3 separate regions of the Homo sapiens genome follow, and regions 1 and 3 are each linked to region 2. The links come from fine-mapping of genetic effects on gene expression. A gene starts in region 2. Each other region holds a variant in brackets. All regions are shown on one strand. Distances are between the middles of the regions.

Evidence for each region. PIP is the estimated chance that this variant, and not a neighbour inherited with it, causes the effect.
Region 1: its variant is the best candidate, but not a certain one, in a credible set for the expression of IFT52 in prefrontal cortex (BrainSeq, PIP 0.52).
Region 3: its variant is the best candidate, but not a certain one, in a credible set for the expression of IFT52 in whole blood (TOPMed, PIP 0.76).

Annotation. Positions count from the first base shown.
Region 1 is chr20:43,566,094-43,570,385 of GRCh38, forward strand. It overlaps SGK2 (serum/glucocorticoid regulated kinase 2), which reads left to right. Exons shown (of 13, transcript NM_170693.3): 2 at 380-438; 3 at 975-1,024; 4 at 1,572-1,629; 5 at 1,823-1,906; 6 at 3,292-3,423. The coding sequence starts at 403. Among named protein-coding and RNA genes, the nearest start is that of SGK2, 9.2 kb to the left of the region's middle. The variant T/A (reference allele first, on the strand shown) is at 2,261.
Region 2 is chr20:43,588,995-43,592,994 of GRCh38, forward strand. IFT52 (intraflagellar transport 52) reads left to right here and starts at 1,943. Exons shown (of 14, transcript NM_016004.5): 1 at 1,943-2,060. RefSeq lists an enhancer at 2,065-2,134.
Region 3 is chr20:43,616,398-43,620,689 of GRCh38, forward strand. IFT52 (intraflagellar transport 52) reads left to right here. Exons shown (of 14, transcript NM_016004.5): 8 at 2,543-2,629. Among named protein-coding and RNA genes, the nearest start is that of IFT52, 28 kb to the left of the region's middle. The variant T/A (reference allele first, on the strand shown) is at 1,834.

The DNA of each region.
Region 1 (4,292 bases), 23 kb before region 2:
GGGATGGGTTCAGACTTTATGCCCTGAAAAGATCCTTCCAGCCCTGGCCATCTTGGACTTCTGGAGCTACCCTGGCTCACAGGGGTCTTGTTGCCCTGGGTGTCCCCAGTTCTTGAAAAGAATCAGCCTGGGAGGGGCCACACCCTGACCATCCCCCTTTATCCCTTCTGAGATGTTTGTTAGGAAGTCTGGGTCCAGGGGATATCATTTCTTGTTCCATCCATGCAGGGGTTGCTTACCTCGGGTAGGAAACCCTCAGGCGGTGGCAGGTGCACAGGTAGGGGAGGATGGAGAGGGCAGTGGTGCCTGAAGCCCTGGATGGGCGGAGCTGACCCCCCAACACCAACTCTCTCATGCCTGCTCCTCCCTGTCCCCCCAGAGCTGCCTGATCATTGCTACAGAATGAACTCTAGCCCAGCTGGGACCCCAAGTCCACAGGTGAGTGGTTCTTGGTCCCCCACCCATCATCGGGGGCTCACTTCTTCCCGAGGCTAAGGAAATCTGTGGGTCCCAGACAATGTCAGGGGCTGAGAGGGTTACTGCGAGCACATAGAAATGAGCCACTTGCAGGGTGAATAGAGTAGAGATTTGAAATAGGGCTTCAAGATGAACTGGAAAAATCATGAGATTTGTCATGGAGACACCTGGGTCGTATCCCAACCTGGTTGCCTGTGAGACCCTGGGCAACTCCTCTCTGGGCCTCAGTTTCCTCGCCTATTCAATTAGCACAACAGCCAGCTGCCTCCCAAGGCTGTTTTGAGAAGTGGGTAAGATGGTGGATAAGTGGATTTGTGGGTGGGTAGAAGGAGGGAGGGAGGGAGGGAGGCGGGCAGGCGGGCAGGTGAAAAAAAAAGAAAAGAAAAAGGCAGGCAGGCCTAGTAGAGTTGTTGGAGAAGGGATCAGGGCCTGGGCCAGGAGAAAGGGAGGTAGCCAAGGAGTAGGGATCTGCTGATCATAATCACTTCTTTCTTTAGCCCTCCAGGGCCAATGGGAACATCAACCTGGGGCCTTCAGCCAACCCAAAGTGAGTTCTGGTCCCTCAAGCACCTTTCCTACTTGACTCCCCTCATACCTGGCTCCCCTTGCCTTGGGAATAAAATCCAGATTCTCTGGTCTAGCATTCAAGACTGTCTGCCATCTGGGCCCAGGACCTTTCCCCAGCTCTATCTCCCACAAATTCCCCAGCCTCTGCCCATGCTGAACCCTCTTCCTGCAATGCCACCTAAATGTCTGCATTGTTAGCAACTCCCCACACTTCAGGCCCTTCTGAGGGGCTTTGGGTACCAGAACCCTGCCTTCTATGCAGGCCTTCTGTGCAGTATGTCTGGTTTTATCTCTACCCTCTGCCTGTTGTTTAACTTGAATTTGAGTTCCCCTGGGGCCAGGGTGAATCTTACAAGCCCTCTTTCGGCTGGGAGAACATGGGGTTCTTCGGGGGTGAGGAGGCATGGCTCCTGGAAGGCTCTCTGTATTTCCCCATTCTAAAGTTAAAAAGAAGCCCAGGTTTGTTCTCAGGCACCAGGTTTCCAGACATTGCAAATGCTGATCCGTGTTTTTCCCTCTTCCCCCAGTGCCCAGCCCACGGACTTCGACTTCCTCAAAGTCATCGGCAAAGGGAACTACGGGAAGGTGAGTGACTTGGTGAGGGTGGGAAGCCTGGGTCTTCCCTTCTGCAGCCTCTTCCAGCCCCTGCTGCCACTTGTATGTATGAAGAGAGAGCACTCGCACCTGCAGACAAAAGCAGGGGCAGGCGGGAGGCCTTGTACTGCTGTTGGGAAGTCCAAAGTCACCTACAGGGCCTCAAATTCATGTTTCTTCTCAGGTCCTACTGGCCAAGCGCAAGTCTGATGGGGCGTTCTATGCAGTGAAGGTACTACAGAAAAAGTCCATCTTAAAGAAGAAAGAGGTACCAGAGCTCGGGCACAGGCATTTCTTCTTCTGCTTCTCAAGCCGCAGCCTAGGGTGGCTTTCAAAGATGGGTCCCACCTCTGACAGGTCCATGGGCCTGGGTGCAGAAGTGGTCACAACAAAGGGTAGAGGGGAGGTGGTACGCAGGATGCTGGCCCTTCTCAAAGAAAGCAGGCCAAGCCATCTCACCACAGGGCTTTCAGGAAAACCAGCCTGGCTTTGCCTTCCCCTGGGAAACACAGGCTCCACGATGGACAAGTCTTCTGCCTGCTCCAAGTGCCAGGCTCCCCATCTGTATAATGTGGAGCCCCACTTTATTCTCTCTGAAGACCCTTCATGCCATCAGGCCATA[T/A]GGCTGGAGTGCAGTAGTGCAATCACAGCTCACTGCAGCCTCAAACTCCTGGGCTTAAGCAATCCTCCCGCCTCAGCCTCCCAAAGTGCTGGGGTTAGAGGCATGAGCTACATGCACAGCACATCATGGACTTCTTTTTTTGTTGTTGAGACAGAGTCTTGCTCTGTCACCCAGGCTGGAGTGCAATGGCACCATCTCAGCTCACTGCAACCTCCGCCTCCTGAGTTCAAGTGATCTCATGCCTCAGCCTCCCCAGTAGCTGAGACTAAAGGCACCCGCCACCACTCCTGGCTAATTTTTGTATTTTTAGTAGAGATGGGGTTTTGCCATGTTGGTCAGGCTCCTGGCCTCAAGAGATCCGCTGGCCTCAGCCTCCCAAAGTGCTGGGATTACAGGCATGAGCTACCACACTCAGCCCCATCATGGATTTCTTGATGCCTCAGCTGACCTGAGTTCCTTTAACACCTGACTCCATTAGTAGGCCAGAGCAGGCCCAGAGAGAGGATTGCATAGGAGGTTGGGGGACTCAGAGAAAAGAGAGATTAATGTTAACAAGGTCTCCGTGGGGGGTGGAATGGGAGGTCTTCCTGAGGGAGGCAGCGGTGCAGCTGGCCTTGATGGTGGGATTCTGATGGTCTGAAAAGAGGGTGCGACATCCAGGAAGAGGAAATAGCATGAGCAAATACATGAATATGGATAGTGTGTGGCTTCTTTCCCTTAGGAACTCAGTTATGTAGGCATCACACATGCTTTGCTTTTCACTCCAAGGGCAAGAAGCTCTGATACAGGGGCTAGAGCTGTGCCCACATGAACTAGCTTAGGATGAGGCTGACCACCCTGAGCCCTGAATACTAAGGAAGGAACTTGGGCCTGGCTCTAAGGGCAATAGGGAGCCATTGTGGGTGTTTGAGCAGGGGCATGAGAAAGTCCTGGGTAGGATGACCCCCACCCACAAGCTTATATGGGCTGAGCCGGGATAAAAGAGGCTGTTGTGGGCTGTGACATGGACCCCTCTCTTTGTGACTCCACAGCAGAGCCACATCATGGCAGAGCGCAGTGTGCTTCTGAAGAACGTGCGGCACCCCTTCCTCGTGGGCCTGCGCTACTCCTTCCAGACACCTGAGAAGCTCTACTTCGTGCTCGACTATGTCAACGGGGGAGAGGTGGGTGGGCCCACAGGGAGGCTTCCCTGGGCTGGCTCTCGGCTGGGAGCTGTCCATCCCACATGCCCACTGCATGCCAAGTTCTGGAATGATCTCACTTCATCTTACAATAGACCCATTTTGTAGCTAAAGAAACTGAGGTTCAGGGAGGTAATCATTTGCTCAAGGCCACCCAGCGCATACCTGGTAGAGTCAGGACTTGAATTCAGGTCTGTTAGACTCCCCACCATAATGCTTTCTTGCCTTCCTCATTCAGAGTTGCCCATAGACGCACTTTGATAGGCCCGGGAAAGGTCAATGCTAAGAGGAGCTCGTGGTCAAGGTTTCTAGTGCTCCCATAGGCCACAGGGTGGGATTGACTGGTCACTGTGGTAAACAGAGACCTCAAGGCCACCTGGTGACCCAGAAGCACAGCTGGGACAAGCAGAGCTCCCTCCTGGGCTTCACTCTGTCTCTCTGGTCAAGATGCAAAATGTAGTGGAGCTCCAGTCAGTGACCCCAGATTTAACCTGCGTGATCTCTTGCCTTTCAGAATGATGCTAAGAGGGGGGTTTTTGTCCTGCATCCCTAAGTGAAGGGCTTTCCATGCCAGCAAAATAGTCCAAAAACATTGGCCCATGGGTGGATCTAACCTGAGCTCAGTCTGACAGCCGTATCATCATATCGCCTGGATTGATGGAAAAGCATAATCTTTGAACCACGCAGGTTCAAATGCCAGCTCTGCCAATTATAAGCTACATGACCTTGGGCAAGTCGCCTAACCATTCTGACCCCTCCTAGCTTCCTCTTACATGAAACTAGCATGACACTTGTACCTTGAAGGTTGTCATGAGGATTAAATAAGAGATGTGGAAGGGCCTGACTTGGAA
Region 2 (4,000 bases):
CATGTTGGTCAGGCTGGTCTCGAGCTCTTGACCTCAAGTGATCCACCTGCCTTGGCCTCCCAAAGTGCTGGGATTACAGGCGTGGGCCACTGCACCCGGCCAAAACTCTTACTCTTTCTGCAATCTCTAACAGTGGGAGAAATGCTCTGGGCAGGTGCTGTAGCAAACACTGACTGCATATCAGGCAGAAAGATCCCAAGATTTGTCCCAGCCTTCAAATGGGACGGCCTACTCTCTCTTCAGTGAGAATACTTCATTTCCATTATTACCCTAACTGCAAACTGTATTCACCCAATTCTGCACCAAAATACAGCATCCCCAAGAAGAGAACTTTTTTTTTTTAAGAGACAGAGTCTCACTCTGTTGCCCAGGCTGGGGTGCAGTGGAGCGATCATGGCTCACTGCAGCCCGAACTCCTGGGTTCCAGCGATCTTCCCACCTCAGCCTCCCAAGTAGCTAAGACTACAGGTGTGTGCCACCATGCCTGGCTAATTTTCTTTTTTTATTTATTATTACTATTATTATTGGAGAGAAAAGGTGTTACTGTTACCCAGGTCCCAGACTCCTGGCCTCAAGCAGTCCTCCCACCTTGGCCTCCCAAAATGCTGGGATTACAGGCAGAAGCCACTTCATCTGACCAAAGAGAATTCTCAAATCACCCTGTTCTCCACTTTCTTTTTGAGACAAGGTCTCACTGTGTTGCCTAGGCTAGAGTGCGGCGGCACCATGACGGCTCACTGCAGCCTCAACCTCCTAGGATCAATCAATCAATCCTCCCACCTCAGTCTCCCAAGCAGCTGGGACTACAGGCGCGCGCCACCACGCCCAGGTAATTTTTCCTATTTTTAGTAGATACCGGGTTTCGCCATGTTGCCTAGGCTGGCCTCAAACTCCTGGGCTAAAGAGATCCACCTGCCTCGGCCTCCCAAAGTGCTGGGATTACAGGAGAGAGCCGCTGCGCCCGGCCCGTCTCCACTTTTAAAATTTCCAGTGACAGAAATTGTGGAAAGCAACACGAGTTGTATGTGTTTTAATATCCTAGATTCGAAGACAAACATAAATGTAAATAAAAACTGTCAGAGCTCTCTGCAATCTTCAGTTTGGGTCTTCCAGGCTGCTGCAGCGTTGTTCACAAATCCACACACCTCTAAAGGCAGGCACAGAGCGCTTTCCTGGGTAGTCGGGTGGCCTGTTGGTAGTTGCAGGCTTCTGGTTTCCCATCTTAATGGCGATGGCAGGGCAACCTGTATTGGTGGTGCTTTTGCACAAGCAGTTCTTTCTGCCGGGAACGCCCTTCCCCAGCCTTTGCCTTAATGAATACCACTCTCTCTTCAAATCTCTGCTCAACAGGGGCGCCTTTTTGACCAGCTTAGTCGTTAGACTCCCTAATACAGTTCATAGTTTTCACATTTTTGTAGAATCTATTCAAGTTCTAACTCCCCGCCATGCTCGCCGGCGCTCAAGCCTAGTACCATGGCAAGCAAAGATGCGGAGTTAATAAAACAGAATTATACGGTTTATCATTCTCAACACTAAACCTGCGCACCCTTTTCCGTTAAGTAGTTCCTAATAGTCCAGCACAGCCTTCCGCCCGGCCCCGCCCTCGCCTGGCTCCACTCTGCTCCTGCGCTTTGGGAATCGAAGCTGGGGCGTTCTCCAACCCCCCCGCGCTGGAAGCCTTCACTATTCTCCTCCCTGTGGGTGGAGCGAAGTTTGGGCACTTGGGTCCTACCGTTGTTATTAGTCTTTACTCGTAATTGATACTAAAGAACAAAATTAAATGGGTTTATTTTTGGTGAAAAGTTAATTCTCCTTATGTTTGGATTTGCCCCTCATGCACCAAATGGTACAGCCCCACATCAGTCAGGCTGCCTACCCCTGACGCCTGCGACGGAGAGGCGCCTTCCGTGCTGTCGTCATCACGTCGGCCGGAGCTAGCGCTGCGTCCTGGGCCACGCCTCCCGGCGCACCGACGCGCCTCTCCGGTTACTAAGCGGCCTTGGATACCTGGCCGCGGGATGCTGGGCGGCGTCAGGTGAGCGGTGGTCGCTGGGCCTCAGGTAAAGGGCGCCAACAGTGGTGGGCCGGCTGGGGCGTTGGTGCGGCCTGGGAGCTGGCGAGGGACTCGCCGCACTCTTCGAGGCCGCTGGGCCGGTCATAGAACATCCAGGGTCCCCCGGGGTGAAGTAAACTGTGGGCGCGGACGTAGCCCGGGTTCCTGGCGCCCCGGCTGGGCGCCCATCTCCACGGCCTCGGGTGGTGCAGGTGTTTAGTCGTTCCGCTGACTATGAAAGAGCATGGGACGAGGAATCGTACAGTCTTAATCTCTCTTCTGTCGTGGCTGCGACCCCTCGGTATTCATGTGGGAAAATACTGATTTGACTGGTAATGTTATTGAAGAGAAAGCGAGAGAATGGTTTGGCAGCGTTACCCAAATATTTGTTATTTTTATAGTTTTAAAGGCCTTATACTATTATTAAGGAAATGCATTTCTGGCTAAGTCTGACAGTACAGGAACGCAGACCTGCTACTCTCACCAGGGGCTGAACTAACAGAACAAAAAAAGATAGATGTATCACGGTGGTGGGACCATGGAGGGGGCAGTTTTTCAACTGGACAAAATGATGTTAAAGTGCTTAAAGAAGGATAAATATGTGAAAGTAGCCAGGAAAATTCTAAAATTAATGCTAATAAGGGAGATTAGCTCTCCAGAACCACCAGATATTATAACATAAAGGTATAGCAATTAAACTAGCATAGAAGATGGGTGCAGCAGTGTGGGCCCGTAGTCCTGGCTACTTGGTAGGCTGAGGCGGCAGGATCCCTTGAGCCCAGGAGTCAGAGACCAGCATGGGTATCAAAAGGAAACCCTGTCTCTGAAAATAAATAAATTAATTTAAAAAGTTTGGGACTCAGCAGGAGCTTACAGGTAGATAAAATATATTAGAACTCAGAATAAGAGCGATTTATATATAGGGATTTATTATATAGGCGAGGTGGTACTGTATTTCAAATCAGCATTGAAGAGATGAATTGGGGTCAGGCAGCTTTTTTAGCAATTTAGAAAATAATTAAACCAGTCGAGCGAGGTGGCTCACACCTGTAATCCCAGCACTTTGGGAGGCCAAAGCGGGTGGATCACTTGAGGTCAGGAGTTCCAGACCAGCCTGGCCAACCTGGTGAAACACCGTCTCTACTATGGCGCGCGCCTGTAATCCCAGCTACTGGGGAGGCTGAGGCAGGAGAATTGCTTGAACTTGGGAGGCGGAGGTTGCAGCGAGCCGAGATTGCACCACTGCACTCCAGCCTGGGTGACAGAGCAAGACTATGCTTTGAAAAAGAAGGAAAAAAAAAAGGAATGAAGCCCATTTTGAGCACCACAATAATTTCCAAATGGACTAAAATTTAAATGTTAAAAAATTACATCACGAATTAGCCGGGTGTGTTTGGGCGCCTGTAGTCCCAGCCGCTTGGGAGGCTGAGGCACGAGAATCTCTTGAATCTGGGAGGCAGAGGTTGTGGTGAGCCGAGATCGTGCCACTGCACTCCAGCTTAGGCCACAGAGCAGACTCTCTCAAAAAAAAAAAAAAATTACATCATGAAGTACTGAAGTAAAGCATTGTTGAATTTATTTATAATCTTAGAATGACAAAAAACTCTTCTAAGTGTTTCATGTCATCCAGAAGCCAGGAAGGAAAAGATTCATACTTTTAACTCTATAAAATTTAAAATCTATATGGCCTGCAAAATTCAACCAAACCAAAAAAACTACCAGAAGCCAAATAAACTTATGAAAATGTTTGTTTAATGATCAATTAGAAAATTATGAAACCCGACTGGGTGCAGTGGCTCATGCCAGTAAACCAGCACTTTGGGAGGTTGAGGTAGGAGGATCACTTGAGGTCAGGAGTTCAAGGGCAACATAGCGAGACCTTGCTTCTACAAAAAATTTAAAAATTAGCTGGACACTGGTGCGCGCCTGTAGTCCCAGCTACCCATG
Region 3 (4,292 bases), 28 kb after region 2:
ACTCCAGAGACTGAGGCAAGAGAATCACTTGAACCCTGGAAGCGGAGGTTGCAGTGAGCCAAGATCATGCCACTGCACTCCAGCCTGGGCAGTGGAGCAAGACACTGTCTCCAAAAAAAAAAAAAAAAAGTAATATTGTAGAAATGTTACAATAATTGTAGAAAAAATGAACAATACAGAGATAAAGCAAAAGAAAAAAAATTCCCCCATCGCACTACTCCAAGACTCTAAGACAGCCCAGGTTGACATATTATTCACTTTCTCCTACTTTTGCTTTGCCTTATTTTTATTTATTTGCCTCGTAAGCTTTAAAGTAGAATAGCAATATAATTTATAGTATAGGTCAGGCATGGTGACTCATGCCTATAATCTTAGCACTTTGGGAGGTTAAGGAGGTAGGATCACTTGAGGCCAGGAGTTTGATACCAGCCTTGGCAACATAGTAAGACCTGTCTCTACGAAAAAGTTAGCTGAGTGTGGTGTTATGCTCCTGTAGTCCTGGCTACTTGGGAGGCTGAGGCAGGAGGATCACTTGAACCCAGGAGTTCGAGGCTGCAGTGAGCCATGATTGTGCCACTGCACTCCAGCCTGGGAGACAGAGTGAGACCCTATCTCTAAAAATGGGAAAAAAATTATAGTATACTTTTTTTTTAACCGAATGATGTGTTGGAAGCATTTTCCCATGTTACTGAAAACCCTTTATAATATGAAATTTAACTGCTGAAGAAGGTTGCATCATTCTGAATTACTTTTTTGTGAACATTTGGATTTATTTCTAATTTTTTGTGACTATAACTACACAACTGGGCATAGAATTTTTTATGTTTCAGACTGCTTTTGTTGCATATGTTAATAGTTTCAGCAACAATGTGTGAAAGAACTTATTTCACTAAAATTCGACTAGCGCTGTTTATATCATATTTTCATATTTATTTATCTGATAGGAAAAAGTACTTTGTTTTTATTTGTTAAAAGTTACAAGTATTGAAAATTTTTCTTATTAACCAGTCATTATTTTATGACTCTCTCATGCTTGTGCCTTAGTTTTCTGGTTTTTTTTTTTTGAGACGGAGTCTCACTCTGTCGCCCAGGCTGGGGTGCAGTGGTGCGATCTTGCTTCACTGCAACCTCCGCTTCCCAGATTCAAGTGATTCTCATGCCTCAGCTTCCTGAGTAGTTGGGATTACAGGCATGCACCACCATGCCTGACTAATTTTTGTATTTTTAATAGAGACGGAGTTTGGCCATCTTGGCCAGCCTGGTCTCGAACTCCTGGCCTCAAGTGATCCACCCGCCTCGGCCTCTTAAAATGCTGGGATTACAGGCATGAGCCACTGCGCCCAGCCTTGCCTTAGCTTTCTTTGAGACTGAGTCTTACTCTGTTGCCCAGGCTGGAGTGCAGTGGCGCGATCTCAGCTCGCTGCAACCTCGCCTCCCAGGTTCAAGCAATCCTCCCGCCACAGCCTCCCAGGTAGCTGTGGGAGTACAGGTGCGTGCCACCAACCCTAGCTAATTTTTGTATTTCTAGTAGAGACAGGGTTTTGCCTCCCATGTTAGCTAGGCTGGTCTTGAACTACTGATCTCAGGGTGATCTGCCCACCTTGGCCTCCCAAAGTGCTGGGATTACAGGCGTGAGCCACTGCACTCAGCCTGCTTTAGCTTTCTATTTGGATCTTACTTAAATACTTTTTTTTTTGGTACCCATAGGTATCTTTAATTGTACAGACTGTCTTTGAGTTTATCTTTTTTCCCTTTAAAATTATGATCTTCGTTTATAAGATAAACAACAATAGGAAAATGCTGTAGAATCAATTTAATTTTTTTTTTTTTTTT[T/A]AATTTTTAGAGACAGGGTTTCCCAGGCTGGAGTGCATGGTGCAGTCATAGCTCATTGTAACCTCGAGCTCCTGGGCTCAAGTGATTCTCCTGCCCCAGCTTCCCAAGTAGCTAGGACTACAGGTATGCCTCACCACACCCAGCTAATGTAGAATTAATTTATGTTAGTTTTCGTTAAAGCCAAATAAAAAAATATAGAAGTATCTAAAATGAGAGGCAGGTTAAAGTGTAGTAGTTATTATAGTTGGTCTTTCTTTTTTTTGTTTTTTGAGATGGAGTCTCGCTCTGTTGCCCAGGCTGGAGTACAGTGGCGCGATCTCAGCTCACTGCAACCTCCGCCTCCTAAGTTCAAGCGATTTCCCTGCCTCAGCCTCCCGAGTAGCTGGGACTACAGGCGCATGCCACCACACCTGGCTGATTTTTTTTTATTTTTAGTAGAGACGGGGTTTCACCATGTTGGCCAGGCTGGTTTTGAACTCTCAACCTCAGGTGATCCGCCTGCCTCGGCCTCCCAAAGTGCTGGGATTACAGGCTGATCCACTGCGCCTGGCCTATAGTTGGTATTTCTAAACTTTAAAATCTGGGTGTGAATTGGCACTCTTCAGTATATAAGACAGTTGCTAGCATGATTCTAATAAGTGTCTGGGTACTAGGATACATGAGATGCACTTTCGGATTTGAGTATCTGACCCTGCTTTGTCATCAATAGAACCAAGGTGGGAAGCTGGCAGTGCTTGGTTCATGTCACATGTTCAGTGATCAATATTTGGACAAAGAAGAAAACAGCAAAATCATGGTAAGCTTTTTCTTTTGTCATATTAATATACAATGTGTATTATTTTCATGTCATTTAAAAAAATACTGGTAAGTTTATTTGCTCATTTAAAAGCAGCTACTCAGAACCCATTATATGCCAGGCACTGAGAATACAAAGTCGAGTCAGGCATAGTCCCAGTCCCTGCTTTGGAAAAGTTTGTAATACACTGAGAGAGAGAGAGACAAATTAGTAAACCCAGAAGGGTGTTTCTGAGCATGTCAGGTGGGGTGGGAGCTGAGCCTGGAGAAGCGGAGAGGAACAGGCTCAATAGCAGTATCACGTGTAAGGCCAAGGAGCTTGAACTTGATGCTGAAAGCCACAGGGAGCCCTTGGGTTTTCAGCAGCCTTGAGCATAGCCAGATCTGTGTTTCTTCTTTTTTTGTTGTTGTTGTTTATGAAAGAACTTCTAGAATGTTTTGGAAAGATTCTTCTGTCAGTTGTGTGGAAAGTGGAAAGGAGGAGGCAGCCTAGAGCCAATTAGGAAGGTGGTGGTGTCACCAGGCAAGGAGAAATGGGGACCTGAATTACGGGAGTCAAGGTGTGAGTGGAGAGGAGGGGCTGGTAGGAATGGGAATTAGGAAAGGCTCTGTAGAGGACTACTCACTGACTGATGTGGCAAATAAAGTAAAGGCATTGCAATTTTGTCAAAAAAATGCCAAGGGAACATGTCTTACGGAAGATGGCAGAGTAGGGAAGCACATGTCTGTACAGCATGTGCCAGAGCTGTCCATTGGTGATTCCAGTGAGAGAAAGAAACGCCTTATAATTGTTATATTGGGAGATTGATAAAGATCTTATTTCTGTGGAATTTACATGAAGTTTCAATGTCTCTAGACACATTATGGGAGATCTAGATATTCTACTTTTTTTTTTTTTTTTTTTTTTTTGACATGGAGTCTCTGTCTGTCACCCAGGCTGGAGTGCAATGGCACCACCTCAGCTCACTGCAACCATCGCCTCACGGGTTCAAGCGATTCTCCTGCCTCAGCCTCCTGAGTAGCTGGGATTATAGGTGTGCGCCACCACACCAGGCTAATTTTTGTATTTTTAGTAGAGATGAGGTTTCACTATGTTGGCCAGGCTGGTCTCGAACTCCTGACTTCAGGTGATCCACCTGCCTCAGCCTCCCAAAGTGCTGGGATTACAGCTTGAGCCACCACTCCCGGCCTAGGTATTCTTCTTTTCAAAAGTTTTAATTTCAGACTGTCATCACAGTAAATAGGGATTAATTCAGGATTGTGAACAAAGGTTAATAAATTTTAGCTTGTGGTTAGAGGTTAGGGTGCTTAAAGATACATTATAAATTTCTGATAATAAAAGTTGCATTATGCTGGTCATGGCAGCTCATGCCTGTAATCCTACTACTTTGGGAGGCCGAGACAGGTGGATCACCTGCGATCAAGAATTCGAGGCCAGCCTGACCAACATGGTGAAACCCCATCTACTAAAAATACAAAAATCAACCAGGCCTGGTGGCAGGCACCTGTAATCCCAGCTCCTCAGGAGGCTGAGACAGGAGAATCGCTTGAACCCAGGAGGTGGAGGTTGCAGTGAGCCAAGATTGCGCCACCGCACTCTAACCAGGGCGACGGAGCGAGACTCTGTCTCAAAAATAAAAGGTGCATTAGGGTGAAGAAAACCT